3 separate regions of the Homo sapiens genome follow, and regions 2 and 3 are each linked to region 1. The links come from fine-mapping of genetic effects on gene expression. A gene starts in region 1. Each other region holds a variant in brackets. All regions are shown on one strand. Distances are between the middles of the regions.

Region 1 (7,834 bases):
TAATCAGGTTGTTGAAACAAGGAGTTATTTTTCTCTGCTTAAGAGACCTGCAGATATCATGTAGAATCTGCTCAATTGTTGATCAAGAAAGAGTTTTTAATGAAACAGAGATCACTCAAGTGAACTGGGGTGCGGGAGCGTTTGTATTTGTACTGAAGACAAATTGTGCTTTTTAGCCCAGCTCCTCTGTTTGAGTCCTCTGTTCTGGTAGGGATGGGCTCAAGATCTAATAATAGTTCCTTGGGCTCTGCATCTCCACATACGTGTTCCGGCGTTTGAGCAGCAGGAGGAATTTAGTGACAGAGCAGGTGTTGTGGCTTATTCCCTGGCAGAATAAATGGTGAAGGGTGGTGGCAAGACAATTCTTTGGCTTCTTTATGCAAAAAAAAAAAAAAAAATGCATTTAATCACTTTCCTTTTTTCCTGGCACTAGTGAAAAAGGATTGGAGTTGCTGTATTAATATGTATGCAAACATATTTTTTCACTTAAGCCTCTGGAAAAAAAAAAGAGAGAGAGAGAAAGAAAAACTTACTGTGAAAATGCTTAGCCAGAAAGATTCATTGCTGATTGCAGATTTAGTATTGACATGTCTTAGCTGAAGAAAACTTCAGCTTTAACTATTAATGTGGAAATCTGGATCAGCTTTTAAAGTAGGGTAAAAAGAGTTTTGGATGATTCAGTATATTTATTTGAACATAATTTTAAAGAAGAAAGTGTCAATTATAGAGGTATATAAAAAACCCAGTGGAGTGTGTGCATTTTAATTTTACATGGCCTACCTTGGAAATAAAATTATAAAATGCAGGTGATCTGAATTATACTTAAAGCAGCCTTTATGCCCAACTTACTCTCTCATAACACTTCTAAATATCCGCTCCTCCTGATTTCTTATAAAATATGGAATTTAAGATGAGAATCGGAGTCTAAATGAAATGTTCTTTTAAAGCATTATTTATAAGATTTTCCTCAACCTACATTTTTTACTTCCCCTAGTAAGTTGCGTACAAAAGTCTGTATTTTTTCTTGAAGGTAGGTGTGTTGCTCTTATAAACATAAGATAAGCCATGAAAACATGAAAAACAAAATTCCTTCTCCTTCCACCTGGGATAATTTGAGATTTTCACAATATTACTTTTTCCTTTGCTTGATTATATAAGGCAAAACTTGATACCCACTTAGTTGTAGCTATGGTCTTCTTGATAAGACATCTATCCAGGTAAAATTAAAGTATAATTTTCAGGTGATTTGCATCCCATGCATGCAACAGGAAAACTCAGAATTCAGGAAAACAGGGCATGCTTAAGAGGGAACATCTTGTAAAGACTGTAATTTGACCTTTGAGTCAACCTGAGTACATTTTAAATATTATAGGACAAAAGCCTCAAAGTGGAATTCTGCCTCATCTTTCTCAGAACTATAAACCAGTCAGACACTGTTTCAGAGATTACGCTAGAAAATATGTACCTATCCTTGGCACTTTTGCTGAGAAATAAAACTCTCATCACTGGAGATAAAGGTAGATTTATATTTAATGCCACCCATCAATCAATCAGTGTATTATTCCAATCTACCTCTATTTAAGTAGTTGAATCAGGTATAAACAGAAACACTTGATTTTTTTTGCCTCCTGCCCATTGAAAAAGATAATGTTGAGTATTGCAAACCTTTCTAACTCTGGAGTACACTTGATATGATGGCAATTAAGAAAAAAAAAAAAGCAGTGACAACTTTGCAGCTTTTGATTAAAGCACACCAAGAGGCATGTTACAATGATAACAATGAAGCATTATGCCAATTATGTTAAATCCTGCTCTCCGCTTAAGCTCATCATGACCTGTTTTAGTGTCCTGTAATTTATCCTTTGGAATGCTTACTCTCATCAATAGTGTTCAACTCAAAGACGGGGGGAAAAAAGCCACCAAAGGGAACAACCACCCCCAAATGACTTCTAGAAAACAAGTTATTTCTTAACTTTTTATTGACATTGGCAAATTAAAATAGAATAAATTAACAAGTATTTTTTCAAAAAAATGTTTTGTACAAAAATACTGTCAAAATTTCCTAAAAAGCTTTCAACACAGTAGTATCTTTTCATGTACTGAATATAACTATTAGCACAGTGTCAAAAATGTTGAAGACAGAAACAAAATAAAAATCTGTGAAATGTTTGCCACTGACGACATTCCACACCCTATTATCATCTGTACATATGGGGGTGGGGGGGGCGGCGGGGGGGACAGCCAACTTGAAAGTGAACAGTATGACTTTCCTGATCCAGAACAGTTTGGCCCACATCTGTTTAATCTTCCAGTTTAGCATATTTTAAAAATTAGTCTGTACTCAAATGCATAGTTAAAAAAATGAAGCGAGATGGCAGTTTGTGCAGTAATATCTGCCCTTCGAAGTTCATGCAACCAACTAATGCAATTTTTCCTTTCACTCGTAAATCTGAATGCAGTTCAGTCATTTGAAACCATCTACAAAATCCACAAGATTAAGCAGTTTGCCAAGATTAATATCTAACAGTTGAGCACTGGAGAAAGTGAGGGAAAGGAGTAAAAACAAACAACGAAAAAGACCAAGTTAGCTAGATATTTCAACTACATAAGGGAGGTGGGTGAATGTCAAGGCTACAAAAACGAAACAAAAACAGGAAAAAAAAGTGGCAGCAATTTTTTTTAAAACCAATTTGTACAAGTTTATAGTTTACTTTGTTTCCAAGTTCTCAAACCTTTCAAGATCTGAAAAGTGAGATACTGTGTCTAAGGGAATGTTTCTTTTAATTCACGCCGAAGAAGTTGGGGGTTTGATTTCTTTCGCCGGGGTTTCGATCGAGTCAACAGCTCACTCTGCTGGGCTGCTGTTTGCACACGAAGTCCGTCATAAAATCAAACTCGTTTTGCCCCAGCCAGAGTTCGGGCAGCTCCTTGATGCGGTCCAAACCCATTTCTATCACCAAGGACATAAGAACTTCCTCGTCGATGAAATCAGTGTCTATGACATTGGGCGGCAGCATTGCAGCGGGGACGTGGGCCACGGAGGCGGGCATGTTGCCGCTGCCGCTGCCGCCGCCGCTGTTGCTGCTGCCCGCGCCGCCGCCCGAGCTGCTGCCAGAGCCGCCGGGGGTGCTGCTGCCGCCCGAGCCGCCGGGGGTGCTGCTGCCGCCGCTGTGCTTGGGGTTGCAATCTCGGAAGTGCTGGTTTGTCCCGTTCATCTGGTGGCCTGCAGCAGGGTGCAAATCCGGCATGTAGTGGTTGTGGGGGTAGGGGTGATGGTTGAAATACTGGTTGTTGAGCTTCTGCAGCTGCATGCTGGCCGGCAGGGAGCCTCCCTGGCTGGCCACCGGGGGACCCATGAACTGGGAGTTGTTAAACCTGGCCGCGGGGGCCAGCGCGCTCGGGGGGTGCCCTCCGTTCACAGTCCCCGGCCCCATCGCATGCCTGATGCCGCTCGTGGCATTCATGTTGCCCGCGCCGTAGTGTATGTGCTCGCCCATTAGGGCGTTGAAGGCGTGCTGGGGCTGCTGCTGCTGGTGGTGATGGGGGCTCGGGAACTGCCCCATGCCCATGCGGTGGGCAGGGTGATGGTGCAGCCCATTGGTGCCGTCGGGGAAGCGCCCGTGGTTCATGGCCATCATATGGTCTGCCATTTCCAGTCCTGGAAGTGAAAAGGGCAGATAATGAGACCCGCGCCACACGTGTCGCCCACCACAGCGCACCCCACTTTTGCTCGCCTCTGCCCCCCAGGATTCCCGGGCGCACGTCGGCTGCGAACCACCACCCCCAAGATCCCACTAACAGCCTGTGCACCCGGGCTAGCCACCACGGAAGAGCTACCACTCATAACACAGCCGGACGCTGCACAAACAGCCCCTTCCCCTGCGATCGGGCGGGGGGACCCGAGCCCACACCCCCTTTGCTCCCCGAAGTGGCCTAATAAAGGAAGTGCCCCGTAGCCCTGCTGCGAACTTCAGGCATTAAATCAGCCCTCCTCATCCTGTTGTTGCACATCCTGTTGTTATTCCCCAGCTTCGCCTCACGCTCTTCCTCCGGGCAAACCCTGCCCTCGGAGGACTGGGCTGGCAAGAGCCCCAGCCAGCTTCGCCCGTCGCGCTTACCTTCCGTTTTTGCGATTTCTGCTCCGAAGACCGAGGGCGGGCTCGTCGCGTCCAGGACCGGCTCAGCAGCACATAGAGGGGACCTTCCTGGCGTGCAAAGCGCTTCGCTGTCGCGATGTCGGCGCCGAGGTCTCGCAGCGGCCGCTGGGGCAGATTCGGAGCCGTTCCCTTTTATTTCCCCTCCGTTGCCCTCACAGCTCGGCAGGACCGCCCGGCAGCTGCCAACAATGAGCTGTGTTTCTTAGGGCTTTGGCCACAGTTAATATAGGCATTTCGGAAAGGCGGAGCGAGAGCCTCCAGGGCGGGCGGCGCCAAGACGCGGATTCCGGAACACCGCGAACACCCTGGACCGGGTCCCGGAGCCGCGTCCCCGCCGCCCGCGGCACGTGCTGCAGAGGCTGCGGGGCCCGGGGGCCGCCCAGTCGCCCCGTCGCCCCCCGACTCTGGTTTCTTCCCGGCCCAGAAACGCGAGGTTGGCTCAGCCACCCCCGAGGCAGGGGGAAAATCCTCCCCTGCCGCCCCGCCCGAAGGTAGAGCCTGCCGGGATAGCCACGAGGAGAGCTCACCGCCCCCCTCAGGCTGGATCTACCCCACCCCCAGCTTTCTCACTCGGTTCACCTAGCGATCTGCCCCGCTCTCTACGGGAAAAGGGGACTCGCCCAGCGCCCCCCGCCCTCCAGAGTGCCCTTGTGCCTCCCCGGTTTTGCAAAAGCTTCCACAGGCAGCGAAGAATGGCTGTGCTTCCTCGAGTTGGGTTTTAAAGACCCGGACAAATAATGCGCCCTTTCCTGAGCGCGCCTTCCTAGGCTGTGCCTTTGTGTTTTCATACGGGCAGTGGGTAGACCTACTCTAGATCACCGCTTGTAGATGCATTTTTTTCCTCCACTCCTTTCAAGGACAGGAGCTGGGGGCGGGGAGGGGCAGCCGCTGCAGGTGGACGGAGCGCGCTCGAGGGCCCGGCCACCCCCGCTCCCGCGCCCTGGAATTCCAGTCCGCGCTTTCGGGCCCGCCTGCCGCTCCCGGGGTACGTGTGCTTCTGCTAAGTTTGCGTTTGCAGCTCTTGGTAGCTTTGGCATCCGAGCTGAGGCGTCTCTGCTCTGTAAACAAACTCAGCGATCCTCGTCCCCAGATCCACCTTTTTGCACATACACAGTTACTTGCTTCTGCTGTTGCCCTGGATCCGGGAGGTGGGGGTGTGTACAAACTTGCAGAGCCTCCCTCCGGGCTCTGCCTGACGGTTTGGGGTTGATTTAGAAGCAAACGGGTTTGTAATTAAGAAATTTGAGGGCTGAGTAAGGCTGCTCTTGCTGGAAAAGGAAAACAAATAGATAACGTGGTAATCGCTTTGTAAATAAAGTCGTTCTGGAGGTGGGCACGTAGCTGCACGTCCCGTATGGCACCACGCGCACACACACGGCTGGGACTCTTCCTTTTCAGTGAAATTGTTCAGTGGGGCAATGGGCGATAATAATAACCTTGCTTCCACAACGCGGCACAACGAGCCTGGTCGCCCGTTTGGTTCATTGACTTGCAAATAAAACCCCTAACACAGGTCTGGGCTACTACCAAGTCGGAGCTCTCTGGCTTTCTCACATGGGGAAGCCGAGTTGTTTCCCCAACACCATGATGGGGCTGTTCTGAGCTTTTACATTGCTCTTTATGTGGTAAAATCGAGTTTAGCGCTCCGAATAAGGACTTCTGGGCAGTTGTTTCTTCATAACTCGATAGCCATTGAAGACTTCCTGCTGCGAAGAGCGAGTCCGCCTCCCCGCCCCCCCCTCGTCTTTTTCCCCCTTCTTGCACACAAGACTTTTAAAGGCCCTGTTTCTTGAGGACTGGAAATTCTGATACATTTCCCCGTTCAGGAATTTGCAAAAGAGACCCAATCCTGATTATTTTCGTCTATGACCCCTCTGTCTTTTCCTAGTCAGGCATATTTTTGTAAATGTTGTTACTTTGTGTCTTGTCTTCTTTCCTCTTCCAGGCTCTCCGGCAAACCGTGCAGGCAAATAATTTTTAAACCTCAAAAATATTTACTTTTTAGAGATACGGGCACATGACACATTGCATTGTTAGTTGCAACAATTCCCTATTCTCCTAACCTCCCACCACCTTTACCTGTAGGTCAGGACATGCAGTTTACCGTATCAGAGGCTTGGATACCTGAAGGGGCCACTTCCTATAAAAAAACAGATTCTAAAATATTGGTAAAACCCAACCTGAAAAATCGCGGGATTGTTTACTTTCCCTTCTTTGTACTGCAAGTGTCTTTCGACACAAGAAACAGCTTTTGAATGTCTAATCTAAATTCCTCTTGCAACCACTAAGGAAAGGTGGAGCTCCATCCAGCTCCAGTGGTTCTACCTACTATTGGGAAATCCCTGGAAAGGTCACCTGCCCATCCCCCATCCCTTAAAGGAGAACAAAATAGTTCTGGGACCAGCTGGTTGGAACATGGCATGCTTTGTTCATTTATTCTCATCCGTCCACTGAATGTCCTCCAAGTGCCAAGTGCTTTCTTGGTGCCTGGAGATACAAACAAGATAGGAACTCATGGTCACAGGGAGAAAACTGACAAACAGGCCTTGAACACACTGTGATAAATGCCACAAAGGCATTGAAGGAAAGGGCTTTGGAGAGCACATAGGAGGGACACCTACCCCCCTCCTGGGTGCTTTGGGAAGGCTTTCCGGTGGAGATGGTGACTAAGTGGAGGCCTCAGGATGAATGGAAGTTTGGTCCCATTAGGAGTGGGGTAGAAAATGTATGGCTAGGGAGTGAATGCAAAGATGAGAGAAATAAGGTTGGAGAAATATGCTGGGGCCGGATGCCAAGGGCATTGTGGCCTCAAGCTGAGAAATTTTGCTGTATCCCAAAGACATTGGGAGGCAGGTAAAAGCTTGTGAAGCCATGAGATAGGAAAGATTTGGATTTTAGAAAGATCAGGGCAGTACTGTGGAGAATGGTTAGAGAAAGTAAGACAGGAAACAGGGAGTCCAGTTAGGGGGCACTTACAGTAACCCAGGGCTCCCAGAAGTTCCGTATAACCAGGGTTTATCCCGTGAACCTGGGTGAGCGAGCAAGTGATCTGTCTGTGGCCCTCACAGCACTGAATGGTTGTATTCATTTCCCAGAGCTGCCATAACACAGTACTATTTAGGTTGGTGCAAAAGTAATTGTGATTTTTGCCATTGAAAGCAATGGCGAAAACTGTAATTACTTTTGCACCAGTCTAATACAAACTTAAGGCTGATCAAGCTTTAAACAACAAAACATTATTGTCTCACAGTTCTGGAGGCTAGAGGTACAAGGCCAAGTTGTTGGCAGGGTTGGTTCTGAAGACCGTGAGAGAGAATCTATTCCGTGTCTCTTTCCTGGCTTTTGGTGGTTTCCCGGCAATCTTTGGTGTCCCTTGACTTGTAGATGCATCACACTGATCCCCACCTTCATCTTCATGTGACGTTTTCCACCCCCCGCCCCCCTGTATGTGTATCTCTGTGTCCAAAGTTCCCCTTTTGACAAGGACTCTAGTCCTTTTGGATTAGGGCTTCTCCTACTGGCCTCATGTTAACTTGATCACCTCTATAAGCTCCTGACTCCAAAGAAGGTCATATTCTGGAGGTTAGAACTCCAACATATCTCCAAGATATTTTTGCGGGGACACAATTTGACTAATAACAGTGGTAAATAAACTGAGTAATACAAGACCCCTGCTG
Region 2 (7,834 bases), 270 kb after region 1:
TTGGTCCCTGGTGCCTTATTTAGTTCATTTGGTGAGGCCATGTTATCGTGGATTGTCTTGATACTGGTAGATGTTCACCTTTGTCTGGGCATTGAAGAATGGGGTATTTATTGTAATCTTTGCAGTCTAGGCTTGTTTGTACCTGTCCTTCCTTGGAAGGCTTTCCAGGTATTCAAAAGGACTTGGGTGTTGTAATCGAAGCCATATCTGCATTAGGGAATACCTTAAATTCAGCAATGTTGTGGTTCTGGCAGATACATAGAGGTACCATCTTGATGGTGTTGAATAAGATCTGGAAGAAATCTCTGGATTATCAGACAAAGACTCTTGTTCTCTTCCTTTACTTCCTCCAAACAAATGGTGTCTCTCTCTCTTCTGAGCTGTATGGAGCTAGGGATGGGGTGACACAAGCAACCCTGTGGCCACCAGCACTGGGACTGCACTGGGTCAGATCTGAAGCTAGCAGCTAGCATAGCACTGGGTCTTGCTCCAGGCCTGCTGTAACCACTACGTGCCTACCGCCTACGTTCACTCAAGGCCCTGGGGCTCTACAGTCAACAGCTGGCAAATCCAGCCAGGCCTGTTTCCTTCCCTTTGGGGAGGCAAGTTCTCCCTGAGCCCAGGTGGGTCCGGAGGTGCTGCTCGGGTGCGAGCTACTGGAGTTAAAAATCATAGAAGTCTACCTGGTGTTCTTTTTGTTCTGCAACTGAGCTGGCACTCAAACAACAAGATGCAGTCCTCACTTTTTTCTCCCCTTTCCACAGGTAGAGGAGCCTCACCCTGTGGTCATAATCACCACAGGCCCACAGGGAGTACTGCCAGACTACTGGCAATATTCCCTTTAGGCCCAAGGATTCTTCAGTCAGCTTCTGGTGAATGCTGCCTGGTCTGGGAATCACCCTTTTGGGCAGTGGGCTCCTCTCTGGCCCAGGGCAGGTCCAGAAATGCTGTCCAAGAGCCAAGGCCTGGAAGTGGGGACTCCAAGAGCCTGCAAGTTGCTCTAACCCTCTATTGCTAAGTTGGTACCTAAGGTGCAAGACAAAGTCCCCTTACTTTTCCTTCCACGTTTCTCAAGCAGGAGACTCTTCCTGTAGCTCCCACAGCTGGGAATGTGCTGAGTGTCACACAAAGCCAGCAAGTTTCAGAGTCTCACTCAAGGCCCACAGCATACTACCTGGGAGTCACTGCTGGTTATTCAGGGCCCAAGGGCTTTTTAGTCAGTAGGTGATCTGTCCTACCAGGACTGGGTCCTTCCCTTCAAGGTAGTGGATTTCCTTCTGGCCCAGAGTGTGTCTAGAAATGTTGTCTGGGAGCTAGGGCCTGGAAGGAGGGCCTTATGGCTCAGAATGGTGTCCTATGCTACTGTGGCTGAGGTGGTATCCAAAATGCAAGACAAAGCCCTCCTTACTCTTCACTCTCCTCTCCTTAAGCAGAAGGAAGGGGTCGCTTTCATTGCTGTGAGCTACACTGCCTGGGGTTGGGAGAGAGATGGCTCAAGCACTCCCTTAGCTAGCCCAGATGATGTTTTAGTAGGTCATGTGCCCCCCAAGTCCACTGTCTGTGAGTTCAGTTTAACACTAGGACTTGCCTAGGAGTTGTAGTCCTTGTGTCCTCGACTGCCTTTCCAGTTTATTTAGAGCCCCAGGACACTTTAGCCTGTGGTGGCAAGACTTGCCAGAACTCAAGTTCTGACTTCTAGGATGAACAATTCCACTGTGGCTAGGGCTGATTTATATACACCCTAGGTGGGCGAGCATCGGTTGAGTTGAGCCCAGATTTGCTTTCTGCTGTGACAGGGCAGTACTGAATTCAATGCAATGTTTCACAGCTGCTTTACTCTCCCTTTCTTAACTGCACAGATTCTCTCTTTGTGCCATGCAGTCACTGCTGTGGGATGGGGGAGAGGTAGCATTGGTAATTCAAGACTGTCTTTCCTTCACTCTTCCAGTGTTTTTCTTCAGTCATATGAAGTTAAAATCAGCTACTATGAGTGCTCACTTGATTTTAGGATCTTATGAAGGTGCTTTTTCTGTGTGCAAAGGGATGTTTTACATGGTGGCAGGCAAGATAGCCTGTGTAAGGGCTTTATAAAACCATCAGATCTCTTGAGACTTACTCACTATCATGGAAAGAGCATAGGAAAGACCTGTTCCCATGATTGAATTATTTCCCACTGGGTTCCTCCCATGACACATGGGAATTATGGGAGCTACAATTCAAAATGAGATTTGGATGGGGACACAGCTAAACCATATCAGGGTGTGAGCCACTGTGCTTGGCCTGAGCTGGATTCTTATCTGGGGATTTGGGTCCTCTTCCAAGCTCACTCAGTTCCATGCAATGTAGGACTGAAGTCCCTATTTCTTGCTGACTTTTGGGGCTGTTCTCAGCTCCTAGAAGCCACTCACATCTTTGCCATGTTCTTCTTCCCTCTTCAGAGCCAGCAATGGAGAATTGCTCTGAAACTCTGAATTCCTTTTACTAGGAAGAACCCTGTCCATTTTAAGATCTCACTGATTATGCCAGGTTAGGTTTATGACACTATGACAAAAAATGTGACCTAATCATGGGACTGACATCCCACAGTATTTATAGGTTCTTTCCATGCTCAAGAAGAAAGGATCATATGACAATGAGGGTCTGTGGGTTATGTTAGAATTCTGTTTACCACAACACTTGGTGGATAAGGCAGAAAAATCTAAATTCTACTTGAAAGATATAAAGTGTTACATGGAGGCATCATAAGGAGACAACCTTACTCTAAGATGGTAAATGCTTAGCATATGGGAGATGCTCAATCAGTGTTTGTTAACCTGTGGCAAGTCCATATATACTGAGAACACAATAATGTATTGGACGTATAAATCAGAATGAGCTTTATTTATCAAATAAGAAAACCTGTTTGTTCCACAAATTGGACAGTTTGATTGTCAACCTTCTGTGCAGGGGAAAATGAACTCCAGAAGGAGGGGCTGGGTAGATAAAGGTAGGGCTGGGGTAGATAAAGAGCCTTCACACATTTAAGCATTTTGAGCCACTCTCAGGGGAGAAGCCAGAAGAGTTTTGGTGAAAAGCCTACTCAGGAACCACAGCAGGTAGCATGATGTCAAAGTCAAGAATACAGGATCAGACACAAGTTGCCTTCAGTGGCCCAGTGTTTTTCTTATTTGCTGAGGCGCCTGAAAGTGTATACTTACTCACATGGGTTACTAAGTTCCCATTCAATATATCACTTCCCTTGAAAGAGTCAACGCACTTCC[T/C]TGAGAAATGCTCTGATAACCTGGCAACGAATGAGATAGGCCTGCCCAGACTGGAGTTCAATACTCGTTTGTGTTGACAGTATCTTCCAGTGTCTAACAGGAGATTGAATTGTAGTCATTAAAAGTGCTTCTCTGGGGTCACCTAATAAAAACAACACCACTAGGGGGGTTTTCTGATTATGTGACTCCTTCATTTGAAGTAATTTCAGAGCTTTATGGACAGATCTGTTTACAGCTATTTCCCATTCCTGTTTCATAAATGGAAATAAGTTGCCTCTGAAGAAAACGGACTTCTCCAAGGTCTTAGTAAATCAGTTGAAGCACAGGAAAGCTAATGCAATATTCTAGTTTTAAAATTTCTAAAAAGGAGATGCCTGGGTGTGGTGGCTCATACCTGTATTCCCAGCACTTTGGGAGGCCAAGATAGGAAGACTGCTCGAGGCCAAGAGTTTTAGACCAGCTTGGTCAACATGGCAAGACTCCATTTCTATAAAAAAAATTTTAAAATTGGCTGAGTATGGTGGTGTGCATCTGTAGTCCTAGTTACTCAGGAGGCTGAGGCAGGAGGATCACTTAAGCCCAGGAGTTTGAGGCTGCAGTGGGCTACAGTTGTGGCACTGCACTCCAGCCTGGGCTACAGAGTGAGGCCTTGTCAATTTAGATAGATACTTTAAATTGATGCCTGAATTTCTAATTTTCTAATTTGGATATTCACTTTTAACATTTATTTATAAATATTTCTATTGCTCTCACAATTCTCTAGTCTTGAAATGCTTGTATCTTTTCCTAGGCTGAAAATCTGGATATTTTATAAAGCAACTTAATTATTGAAGATTCAGATAAAGTCCATTTGACCAAGCATGTGTGTTTGTAAATTTTACGTTTAAATATTTTTATTTAATTGCTAAATACAAAATTGAATTACCCGACTGAAGTGACAGTCTGATTATTTCAATGTTACGCAAGAGGAATTTTAAATTTCCTGTGAAGTTCTCGGAAAGAATGATGAAGACATTGTTACTTCTTATATAAAGTCCAGTTTTAAGTACTCCAGAGTAGATTTAGAAAGGCTTTGCCGCTGCTTATCACACTTTAGCTGTTCAAGAAGGAGTCAGAGAGGCACATAAGTAGGGAAGGATGACTTATATAACTGATGCAAATACAAGTGTAGGCCCAGCAAAATTTCAGTTCACTATGGTTGAAGCTCTAATGAAGAGTAAACAAAACTACATCTTGTTATGTAGAAGTAAAGGATGAGTGGCAGTGCGTGGTGGCTCATGCCTGTAATCCCAGCACTTTGGGAGGCCGAGGCGGGTGGATCACCTGCGGTCAGGAGTTCGAGATCAGCCTGACTAACATGGTGAAACCTGTTTCTACTAAAAATACAAAAAATTAGCCAGGCGTGGTGGTGCACGCCTGTAATCCCAGTTACTCGGGAGGCTGAGGCAGGGGAATCACTTGAACCCAGGAGGCGGAGGTTGCAGTGGGCCGAGATAGTGCCACTGCACTCCAGCTTGGGCAACAAGAGTGAAACTCTGTCTCAAAAAAAAAAAAAAAAAAAAAAGGTGAGTGTACAGAAGAACTTGGAGGTTTATGGCCTATTATCTGGTAACATAGAATCTTAGAATGGTTCAATCATTCTAATGGTGGTGGCTAATTCCCATCAGAATATCACTCTTGTAGATACTTGGAGAGGTTTGTGTCTGGTGAATTCCATCACACTTTAATATGACAGTAACAATGTCCTAAAAAAGTGACTATGATTGATGAAGATGTTGGATGTTTGTGAAATAAGCATCTAAACTATCAGTTTGAATTTTTTTAAATAACAAATTGGTATTAAACTAGAACATTTGAAGTATTTTCTTACACTTAGTAGGAAAACATAGAGCATTTTAAGATGTTGAGTTTTAAATTAGGAAACAACAGCGAAGTATCTAGAGACACAGAATACACCAAAGGAAACCCACAAACCACAGGCTAAGACATTGTTACTATGTGGACTGACCATGACAAAATACTCACTCCCTTTCCTCTCACAAGGGCTGCTTTTAGCTCGATACTAGATATTATTGACATAAAAAACTCAGAGCACTAAAAATGTATCTACTCTGTTTTCCTAGTATTTGTTTTTCTTCCTTGTCTCCTGCAATTTTATGTGAGAAATGAGAACTCAGCGTGACCCCAGTTATTAAAATCCGGAGGCTAGAATCTGGATATGGAATATCTATTGAAGCATGGCACCAAAACTTGATAGCTTTTGCTCCTTTTTGGTACTGTTGTGAGGACCAAGAGTTAATGAAAGAACAAAAATCCAATCAAGCAAGTCTCTCCTTGTTCAGAAAATTAAATGCATGTGTGAGAGAATCAATGGTCAATATCGACACTTTGGTAGACGCATTGGAACTGATTTGGCTTCGTGCCGAGCTTTTAAGGCTATTGGTGGAGGAGGGAGGAGTTTAACAACAGGAAAACAGCCAAAGAATATGAACTTCTCTTTTACCATCTTCATCATGTATCATATATAATGATTGGTGAATAACATGGGAAAGTTGCCAAAATTGCTTTGTCTCAACATTTATAGTTTCCAGGGATGGAAACTATATCCAGATATCCAGACTCAACAGGCATCTAAAATTCAGGCTCTAACTTCTCAATGTTCTAGAGAATATCTATAATGCAATTTCTGCCTATAGAAATTCTCACAAGTGGAAGATGTTTAGCATAATAGATAGACGTATGGCTTGCACCAGATGTATCCTTTGTATGGAATGCTGTTTTCCATGATTCACATATAGCTATTTCCACCTTGCTATGTAGGGCTCAGTTTATACATCATTCCCTCAGAGAGGACTCTTCTGACCACCCTACCCAATCACTCCATAACATGTTTTATTTTTATCAGAGCACTTGCCACTTCCTCCTATTTTACTTCATTTTGTTTTGTTTGCGGTCTGTCTCCCTGCCTCTCACTTGAATTTAAGGTCCATGGAAGCAGAGACTTTGTCTGTCTTGTTCATTTCTATTTCCTTGTGTCTACAACATGTGTAGCCAATATTAGGTTCATAATAGATGCCTGCGGAATGACAAGTGAGTAAATGAATGAGCAATAAAGTATAGATATATTCTACCAGTATTGAATTCTTTGTTTCCCAGGAAAAGTTATTTGGTCTTAATATTCTGCCTTTCGTATTCTTTCTGTTCACCAATGATATTAAAATGCATAGTGTTGCTAGTGTATAAGGGTTTACATGGGGGTTTTTCTACAAGGGTGGAAAGGATTCCTCTAAGAGCAAAATAAGATTATCAGAAAATTTACTTTTAAGATAAACAAATGATAGATAAAAACTGAGAAAGGAAGTTATCTAAGTAAGATAAAGTGGCTCCTAGGTTTACAAGATTTGATTGAAATGAATAAAATGTATTATCATATATCAGGGGCAAAAAATACAACTAAAAGCATTGGTCAACCATGAAAGTAGAAAAGAAGAGTTTTGGATGCAACCTTACCGGTGCCTGTCTACACATCCGAGGACCGTGCATCCTGGAAGGGTCCACCAACATACCACTCTGCTGTGGAATGGTTGCATCTGGTCATCTCAACCTCATGCAATTATCTGCTTCTTGAAGTCTCTTTGTTCTGATTTCCAGGCCACCAAGCAAACTTTGCAATGTGATTTGGCACACATTTCTCCCGCCATGAGAAATGTACCTATGAACCTGAAGTCCTTCAGTCCCAGTGATGATCATTGCCCATCACGCATAATAAATTGGCATCAGGTTTATGTGTCTATCCCATAAGCTTGGTAAATGTGAGTAGTTCCTAAAAGAGATGTGCTGACAATTCATACATCTGAGCTGGCTAGATTCCCAGCAATGTGCTGGATCCTGATAAATTCACCAGGATGAGGGATTGAAGACCTTGTAAGGGAGGCACAAGAACTGAGCCAAAAATTTTAGTTGAATTTTTGAATTAGTGTCCATCTGCTATCCATGAAACAGGTCAGTGACTTAACTGAGGGCAATATTTTGAACCTTTCTAACCTAAAGGGATGGAGGTAAGTGAAATCCAAGTCACCATCTCTATTTCTCAGCACGAGAGGTAAAGAATTTGGGACTAATTATTTGGAAATTCAGATCTCAGCCTCATTTTTTTCTTTAGAGCCTCTCCCTAGAGCAAGTCTTAACATGGTAAAAAGGAAAAAGGTGGATTTTCTTCTCTTCTTTGGGAAACCCTCCCTATGCCTAATGCCTACCCCAATGTCTAAAGCCAAGTTCCTCGGCAGGGGCTCTGCACCAGGGCTTGAGGCCCAGGAGCCCAGATGAAGCATGAAGAACCCATGGATCCAGCCTGTGATTGCCTGTGTTTGGCCGCATATAAGTAACACCGGCCTTGGTAAAAGGGTCAGCTCAGAAACTTACATGTCTTTGGCGTTGCTGATCTGCTTTCTGACTTCTTTTCATCCCTCCTGTTTTCAATGACCTTTCCTCTCAGCATTTATATTTAGAGCAAATCTCATTCACATTGAAGCTTTACTTCTCCTTAACTTCTTTTATATAAAATATTCTTTCTT
Region 3 (7,834 bases), 540 kb after region 1:
TGCAGTCATTCAGCCTGGGGCTGTAAAATTGTCAGATCTCATAAGCTCGACACAGTGCTTGGGTCTGGCCAGGACTTGGATAGGAGAACTCAAAAGAAAGAAAAAAAAACTTTGTGGAACACACATCTGTTGTGCACCAGATGGCAGTTATTTCATCTTCTGTGGAACTTTTTTCTATAATTCTTGTTACATTTCTTCTACTGCAGTACTTACAGGTTTTAAGAAGAAAAAAGCAAAATATTTTGGGAAAAATGAGGTGACTGTAACATTAAAATCAAGGCTTTAATTGTTCCCAAACTCAGGATTTGCAGAGTTAAGTTTCCCACAGCAATCCTCCAACTGTGCAGCGTGTATTACAATAGGAGTCCTCATTACATAATCACCAAACCCTGGGTAATGTTACATAGTGTTCAGCAGATAAAGGGCACAAAATAATGGAAAAGAACTGCACTTTTTCTCTAATCGTAGATGTACAGAGCATATTATGTTACTGCATAAATATTACATGATCATGTAACAAAATATACTAATGAAATATACAGATGCAAAGCAAGGGTGCAAGGGTTGAAGGTGCATTGGGAACACTTAAATTGATTTTCTTATTCTTTGCTAATTCAAATTCAAACTTAATTTAGCATTTGTGTTGTTTTATGAGAATATAAAATGTCATGGGAGGCCTGATAGTTTTTAATAAGTTTATCGAATGGTACTTAGAGTCATCTTCTGCAACAGTAATATAGACCTACAACACTATTGCTGTCTTTCATGTATCAAACTTCTGTTCCTGACTATGTCTTAAGCATTAGGTTTTGACCTAGAAGCTAATTTTTGCCCAATGGCTTCTACTGCTTTGCAAGTACAGCACATTTTATATTAAAGACTCAGATGTTGCCTATTGGGTTTAGTGGGTTTCTGCCTATATTAGTCCATTCTCATGCCGCTAATAAAGACATACCCGAGACTGGGTAATTTATAAAGGAAAGAGGTTTAATTGACTCACAGTTCAGCATGGCTGGGGAGGCCTCAGGAAACTTAACACTCATGGTGGAAGGGGAAGCAAACACATCCTTCTTCACACAGTGGCAGCAAGAAGTGCTGAGCAAAAGGGGGAAAAGTTTCTTATAAAACCATCAGATCTTGTAAGAACACTCACTATCATGAGAACAGCATGGAAGAAACTGCCCCCATGATTCAATTACCCCCGACCAGGTCCCTCCCATGCCACAGTGGTGATTATGGGAGCTACAATACAAGATTAGATTTGAGTGGGGACATAGCCCAACCATATCACTGCCTACGTTTGCCCTGTCAGTTGCTTAATATCTGTGCAAATTTGTCAGCCTATTTAGATGCCCTCTGCCAATTGATTAAAAATACTTACATAGTACCTACTGTATAAAGAACTCTTCTAGATTCTGATGTAACATAAATAAATTGTTACGGTCTTCTTTTTAAAAAATAAGAACTTCAGTTACTGATGACAGTGTTAATTATATTCACTTTGAATCAGAATGCATTGTGTGCCTTAAACAGCATGGACAGTGCTGGCGTACTACACAGCTCATTACATTTTTTATTTCATTTTACCAAAGTTCTATTTCATGCAAACATCTCCAGTTATTCCTACCATTGGTATATGATCTTCATAGCCATAATTAAGTTTGTGATGTTTTGTGTGAGGTTATTTCTCAACATTGTTATTGGCATACCACTAGTATCAATACTTTGGCAAGTTAAACAACTGTGATAAGATCACAGAATATCAGAACTTGGAAGCAAAGTTAGAGTATCAAACTCCTTTGAAAGATGAGTAAACTGAGACTCAGATGTTAAGAAGCTGACCAAGATCACAAATGTGTTAGTGGCAGATAAACTAGAATCTCTTCTTTCTCTCTATTGTGATGTATCTTCTGGGTATATACACACACAACCACTGCAGATTGGGTAGTGGTTGTGCTATAGTTTGAATATTTGTTCCCCAAAACATCATGTTGAAATTTGATCCTGATATTGGAGGTGGGGGGTAATGGGAGGTGTTTTTGTCATGGGGGCAGAACCCTCAGGAATGGCTTGGTGTCATCCTCATGCTAATGAGTGAGTTCTCACTCTATTGCTTCCCATGAGGGCTGGTTGTTAAAAAGGGAGCCTGGCAACTCCCTAGCTCTCTCTCTTGCTTCTTCTCTTTCCATATGATTTCTGCACATATCAACTGTCCTTTGCTTTCTGCCATGTGTGGAAGCAGCCTGAAGCTTTCACCAAATGCCCAGTCTTTCGGCCAGCAGAATTGTAAGCCAAATAAACCTTTTTTCTTTATTAATTATCCAGCCTCAGTTATTCCTTTATAGCAACACTAAACAGACTAAGACAGGTTGGTTATATGATCTCAGAATAAATTTGCTTTCAGTGACATTTAGTTCTTAAGAAGATAATTATCTTTTAAGTAAGACATACAACAAAGGGCTCAAGTGAGCATCAATAGATGAAAATGTAGTAGACAAAAAAGTCTAGTAGAAGAAACAAAAATAAAAGATAGAAAAACATTTCTAAATAAACATGTTTATCACTATATCAAGTGAAGATTTCATTTATGACTTAATACTATAATCTGACCTTTACAATTTTCTGTTGTTTATTTGTTTTAAAAATATGCTTTGGATTTATTTTCAATACTTAAAAAATATTATCAAGGTCCGTAGTGGAATTACAACTTGTTACAGATAATTGTTGCTCTTTAATTCTACATCCTATGGGATTAATTTTGTAATTCAATTCTCAAATAGCATACACTTAGTAATAGCTATTTTTCTAATAATTTCAGTATCATAGGAATATGTGCTTTATTAAGAAGGATCTAAATATACAACTTTAAAATACCCCAAAACTTTTTAAAATAAGATAAATTCCCTCTAAATATTGTGACTGAAAACTTCATTGAAGTGTCCTTAGGTTGCTGATAACACAAAGACTGCTCACTACCAACTGTGAGCTTTTGCTTAAAAATTTCCACACGTGGATTTGCATCTTTCTAGGTTGCAAAAAAATACTATTTCTCCCATAAGGAAACAGTGAAATAGAGGGAGTAAATGTATGTAAAGAGAAACACCAATTGAACCAAAATGTACTGCATTAGTTTTCAATGTCAATTACTAGACATCTGAGAAAAAGTATCAATATTTGTAATATTTAACAAATCTATAGTAATATGTAGACGGTAATAAAGCAGTGTTATACTTTAAAAGATATTTACAAAGGTCCATGTTAATATATTATCGTGGAGAACTGGAAAGAGTGAAAATAGTAAAAAAAAAGCTGTGTTAAATACTCTCATATTGATTCTCTACTCATTATTAAATAGTTCTGCTTTTAATAATCTGTTTACATCGTGTCACTTAAAACAAACATAAATCTCCAATCCTGCTGAGAAAGTTTTGTTCAGCAATCTACTTTAACAAGAAGGACACTTTGGATTGGGCCAAGTGAACAGGACTTTTGTTGTTTAAATCAGAGAAATGTTTATTTTTATCATTTTATTTTCTGCCACATAAAGTATAATGGGACATACCATAAATGTTGATAGTTTTGCCTCTAATTTTTAGTTGTTAACACATTTACACTGATTTTAAAATTTGATTCCAACCATAGTTTATTTTTGCAGCCATTATGACTATGTCTACAAAATTAGGTTCAAGTTTTTACCAAATTTTGCTGGTTTATGCTTTAAATTAAAATCCATCTTTACTAAATTTTGTTCAGGTCTCGTGTATATTGTTGGGGACTTCTTTGAAAGAACCACCTACATGGCATTTCCAAATAATTTATTCACTAAGGATCTGTTACTTTTTTTTTTTTTTATTTTAGATGGAGTCTTTCTCTGTCACCCAGGCTGGAGTGCAGTGGCTTGATCTTGGCTCACTGCAAGCTCTGCCTCCCGGGTTCACACCATTCTCCTGCCTCAGCCTCCCAAGTAGCTGGGACTACAGGCACCCGCCACCACGCCAGGCTAATTTTTTCTATTTTTAGTAGAGACGGGGTTTCACCGTGTTAGCCAGGATGGTCTCGATCTCCTGACCTCGTGATCCGCCCGCCTTGGCCTCCCAAAGTGCTGGGATTACAGGCTTGAGCCCCCACACCTGGCCAGGATCTGTTACCTTTTATACATTTCCCAGGAAAATCCATAGTAGAACAAGAATAGGCTTATTTATTCGACTAACTTCAGACTATAAATAATACTTTCTATGAATTAATCTATCATTTTAAATAGGTTTCCATAGGATGTTTCTA[G/T]AGTAATGTTCCTACAGTAGGTGTATTAATAACTAAACTTATTTGGTCTTTTATTTCATGTATACATTGTTCCTCTTACCTAAATTATGTAAGTTTAGCTACAAACCAGCAATTTGATAGAATCCCGTGATTCTTTGAATTCATGTTTGTTTCTCATGTTGATATCATTTACGTACTTAGCTTTGTTAATCTTCAAAGTCATTCACTGCTCAATGAGAACAAGCATTTTCAAACTCTACTGGAATATTTCATGGTAAGCATGTCTCCTCTTTCCTCATTTATTTACATAAAGATCAAGATAAATCAGGATATGATTATAGGTGGTGTGATTCATCAGCTGCCAATCAAAAGCTGACATAAAACCTTTGGCAGAAAGATTGAAAAAACTATTTGGAAAACAACATGATCCTAAAGAAGTGTTCTGAAGAGTGGTGATGTCACTGGTCTGTAAACTCTAATGAACTTCTTATTCAAATATCTATTCCTCTTGGTTAGATACATTCACCTTATTTTTCTTGTCCAGTGGCTTAATCAACTCTATGCTGTTTAAGTGTGATGATTTGTCTTTTGTAAACCTATGAACTAGAATGACTCACATATTTTTTCATTTTCACTTATGAAACTAAGAATTAAATCAATATTCATCTCATAAACACTTGCCAGCTATCTATTATGTGCTTCATGCATTGGTAAGAATTACTATTACTGTAAGTATTATAATTCTTTCATATCTTCCTTAAGATATACAGTTATCTCAGAACTTCACACTTAATATAGTATTTTTCTAATCACTGAATTGATTCAAAATTGAATAAAATCTTTTCCTATAGATTAACAATATATAATATATAGAAAAATGTAAAATATTTATCAGAATAACAGAAAAGCTATTATTTATCAAAGTATAGTTTTTCCCTGTAATATTTTCATTTTGAATATTTTTTTCCCTGAAAAGGTAAAACCTCACAATCTTGATTTCTAACCTGACTGTAGTACAATGATAGGTGACTGTCCCATTCTTTACTGCTCACCTTTCATTTGTTAACTTGTAGTCTCAAAGTTTTCTCTTGATACCTGTTCTTTTGCCAGGATCCAGTGGTTTGGGAGTTTGGACTATAGCAAGATTCACAGATTTGAGCACAACTCTAAATGAGGGCAAACAGGAACGCTACTCCCAAAAACAAAAAAGTCCACTTAAACAAGCTAACTAACCAACTAACTAACTAATTAACCAATATAGGCATTTTAGTAACCTTTCCAAAAAGCAGCAGAACTAAGTATCTATTTTCCTAGTAGAGTATATTTGTCTTCTAGATCAGGGTGCCCATCTTTGTCCCAACAATTCTGTAATGCTATAACAGAATACCACAGACTGGGTAATTTTTAAAGCAAAGAAATTGACTCCTCACCGTTCTAGGGGCTGGGAAATCCAAGACGAAAGTGCTGGGATCTGGTAAAGGCCTCCTTGCTGTGTCATCCAGTGGCAGGAGAGCTCAAGAAAACAAGACCAAGATCAAATGAGGAAAGCGACCAAATTCATCCTTTTATCAGAAACCTAGTATCAAGATCCCTAACCTACTCCCACAATAGCATTAATCAATTCATAAGGCAGAGCCCTCATGACCTAGTCACCTCTTAATGGTCCCATCTCTCAGCAGTGTTGCATCGGGGATTAAGCTTCGAAAGCATGAACTTTGTGGGGACTCATTCAAATCATAACAGTACCATAACCTAATTTACCTGGAAATGACATGTACTGGAGAAAAGCAGACATTCGTTGGCCTTGGATGGTTTGAGTCAGTAAATTATTAAATAACCTTTTTTTTTTGTTTCTGAAACTTTAATGAAGATCTAAATAAAAATGAAAATTATTGCAGCCAAAAGAAGAAATAAAATGATTGAAAAATAGTTCTGTCTAATGAGCTTGACCCTTATGAGTGCTCAGATCAACTCTTCCCCTCTCCCACACTTATGCAGGGAGCTCTCAGATCAGGCTGCCCCCTCTTTCTCTCAGGTGCTCCCCTGGAAACCTGGAGACTTCTAAGGAAGTTAGACCTGTTAGAACAGGGGTGTCCAATCTTTTGGCTTTCCTGGGCCACATTGGAAGAAGAATTGTCTTAGGCCACACATAAAATACGCTAACACTAACGATAGATGATGAGCTAAAAAAAATTGCAAACAAATATCATGTTTTAAGAAAGTTTATGAATTTGTGTTGGGCCACATTCAAAGCCATCCTGGGATGCATGTGGCTATGCGTTGGACAAGCTTGTGTTAGAAGATCAAGTGAGGGAAAATCAACTGAGACATCTCTTCTTCAAGATTCTAGAAACTTTTAAGTTTTGCCACTAATTTAAACACTTGGTAAAGGCAACACTGTATATTTTTCTTCCCGGTGCCTAGTAGATTATGTGTATTTAGATATTTACTAATCCAAATTATATTGAAAAAATGTTTTTTATGTTGAAAGGAGACACTAGTAAATTTTTTTCCTAAAACACTAGGTACATAGCTAACTATTTCTTCCTGAACATAGATTTTTGATGTAAAGAATGAGAAAATAATGATTTTCATGTTTCTGTTTTTCACATATGCTAAAAGAACTGACTACTCATGAAGTTATAATGGAAGAGTATGTGGAGATACACCTTGTGTGTTTCACTTACTGCTGTAACTGAAACAATGAAAAAAATTTTCCCATAATGGATATTAATCTATTCTAAGCCAAAAGGCAACACATTCCCAAAATGTTTCTGTCTAAAATATTTTTATTTTAGGTTTGCCACAAGAATTACCATTTCCTTTCACTTGACATAAAATAAAGCCACTATCAAGAGTATTACTTTACTTAATATTTTTACAACGACATTTGGACATTGTCTTAACATAATCAGTGTTAAAGCAGCCAGGAGAAGAGCTGTTTAGAAGACTCTTCCAGTTCAGTTTCTATATTGAAATATGAAGTGTTAATTTTGAGGTATGAAAGCAGGGTCCCAGAGCCTTTGAAGATCTGTTATGGAAATGGTCTAGAGAAGGGTTCAACAATTTGTGGTCCTCAGGCTAGCTGCTCGTATTTTGTAAGTACATTTTTATCAGAAAACAGTCATGTTCATTTGTTTACTTACTAGGTATGGCTGTTTTCCAGCTACAAAGGCAGAGTTGAGCAGTTGTGACAGAGGTCATTGGGTCTGGAAGCTTCAATGATTTACTATTTACTGTTAAGGTAAATTTTAAGAAAAGCTTCCCTAGCCCCTAGTTTAGAGAAGGACTGTCCCATAAATAGATATGATAGGGAGGCCGAGGCGGGTGGATCACAAGGTCAGGAGATAGAGACCATCCTGGCTAACATGGTGAAACCCTGTCTCCACTAAAAAATACAAAAAATTAGCCTGGCGTCGTGGCAGTCGCCTGTAGTCCCAGCTACTCAGGAGGTTGAGGCAGGACATGAACCCGGGAGGCGGAGCTTGCAGTGAGCCGAAATCGTGCTACTGCACTCCAGCCTGGGCCACAGAGCAAGACTCCATCTCAAAAAAAAAAAAAAAGATATGATGAT

Evidence for each region. PIP is the estimated chance that this variant, and not a neighbour inherited with it, causes the effect. A credible set is the group of variants that fine-mapping cannot tell apart.
Region 2: its variant is the best candidate, but not a certain one, in a credible set for the expression of CITED2 in whole blood (INTERVAL, PIP 0.85).
Region 3: its variant is the best candidate, but not a certain one, in a credible set for the expression of CITED2 in nasal epithelium (TOPMed, PIP 0.70).

Annotation. Positions count from the first base shown.
Region 1 is chr6:139,370,295-139,378,128 of GRCh38, forward strand. CITED2 (Cbp/p300 interacting transactivator with Glu/Asp rich carboxy-terminal domain 2) reads right to left here and starts at 4,354. Exons shown (of 2, transcript NM_006079.5): 1 at 4,119-4,354; 2 at 1,513-3,658. The coding sequence starts at 3,650. The coding sequence ends at 2,838. RefSeq lists silencers at 3,063-3,162, 3,733-3,882, 4,343-4,722, 4,893-5,202, 6,458-6,752 and enhancers at 3,453-3,512, 4,023-4,192.
Region 2 is chr6:139,635,408-139,643,241 of GRCh38, forward strand. No RefSeq gene overlaps it. Among named protein-coding and RNA genes, the nearest start is that of FILNC1, 130 kb to the right of the region's middle. RefSeq lists silencers at 4,678-4,845, 5,159-5,258. The variant T/C (reference allele first, on the strand shown) is at 3,261.
Region 3 is chr6:139,905,489-139,913,322 of GRCh38, forward strand. No RefSeq gene overlaps it. Among named protein-coding and RNA genes, the nearest start is that of LINC02941, 67 kb to the right of the region's middle. The variant G/T (reference allele first, on the strand shown) is at 4,282.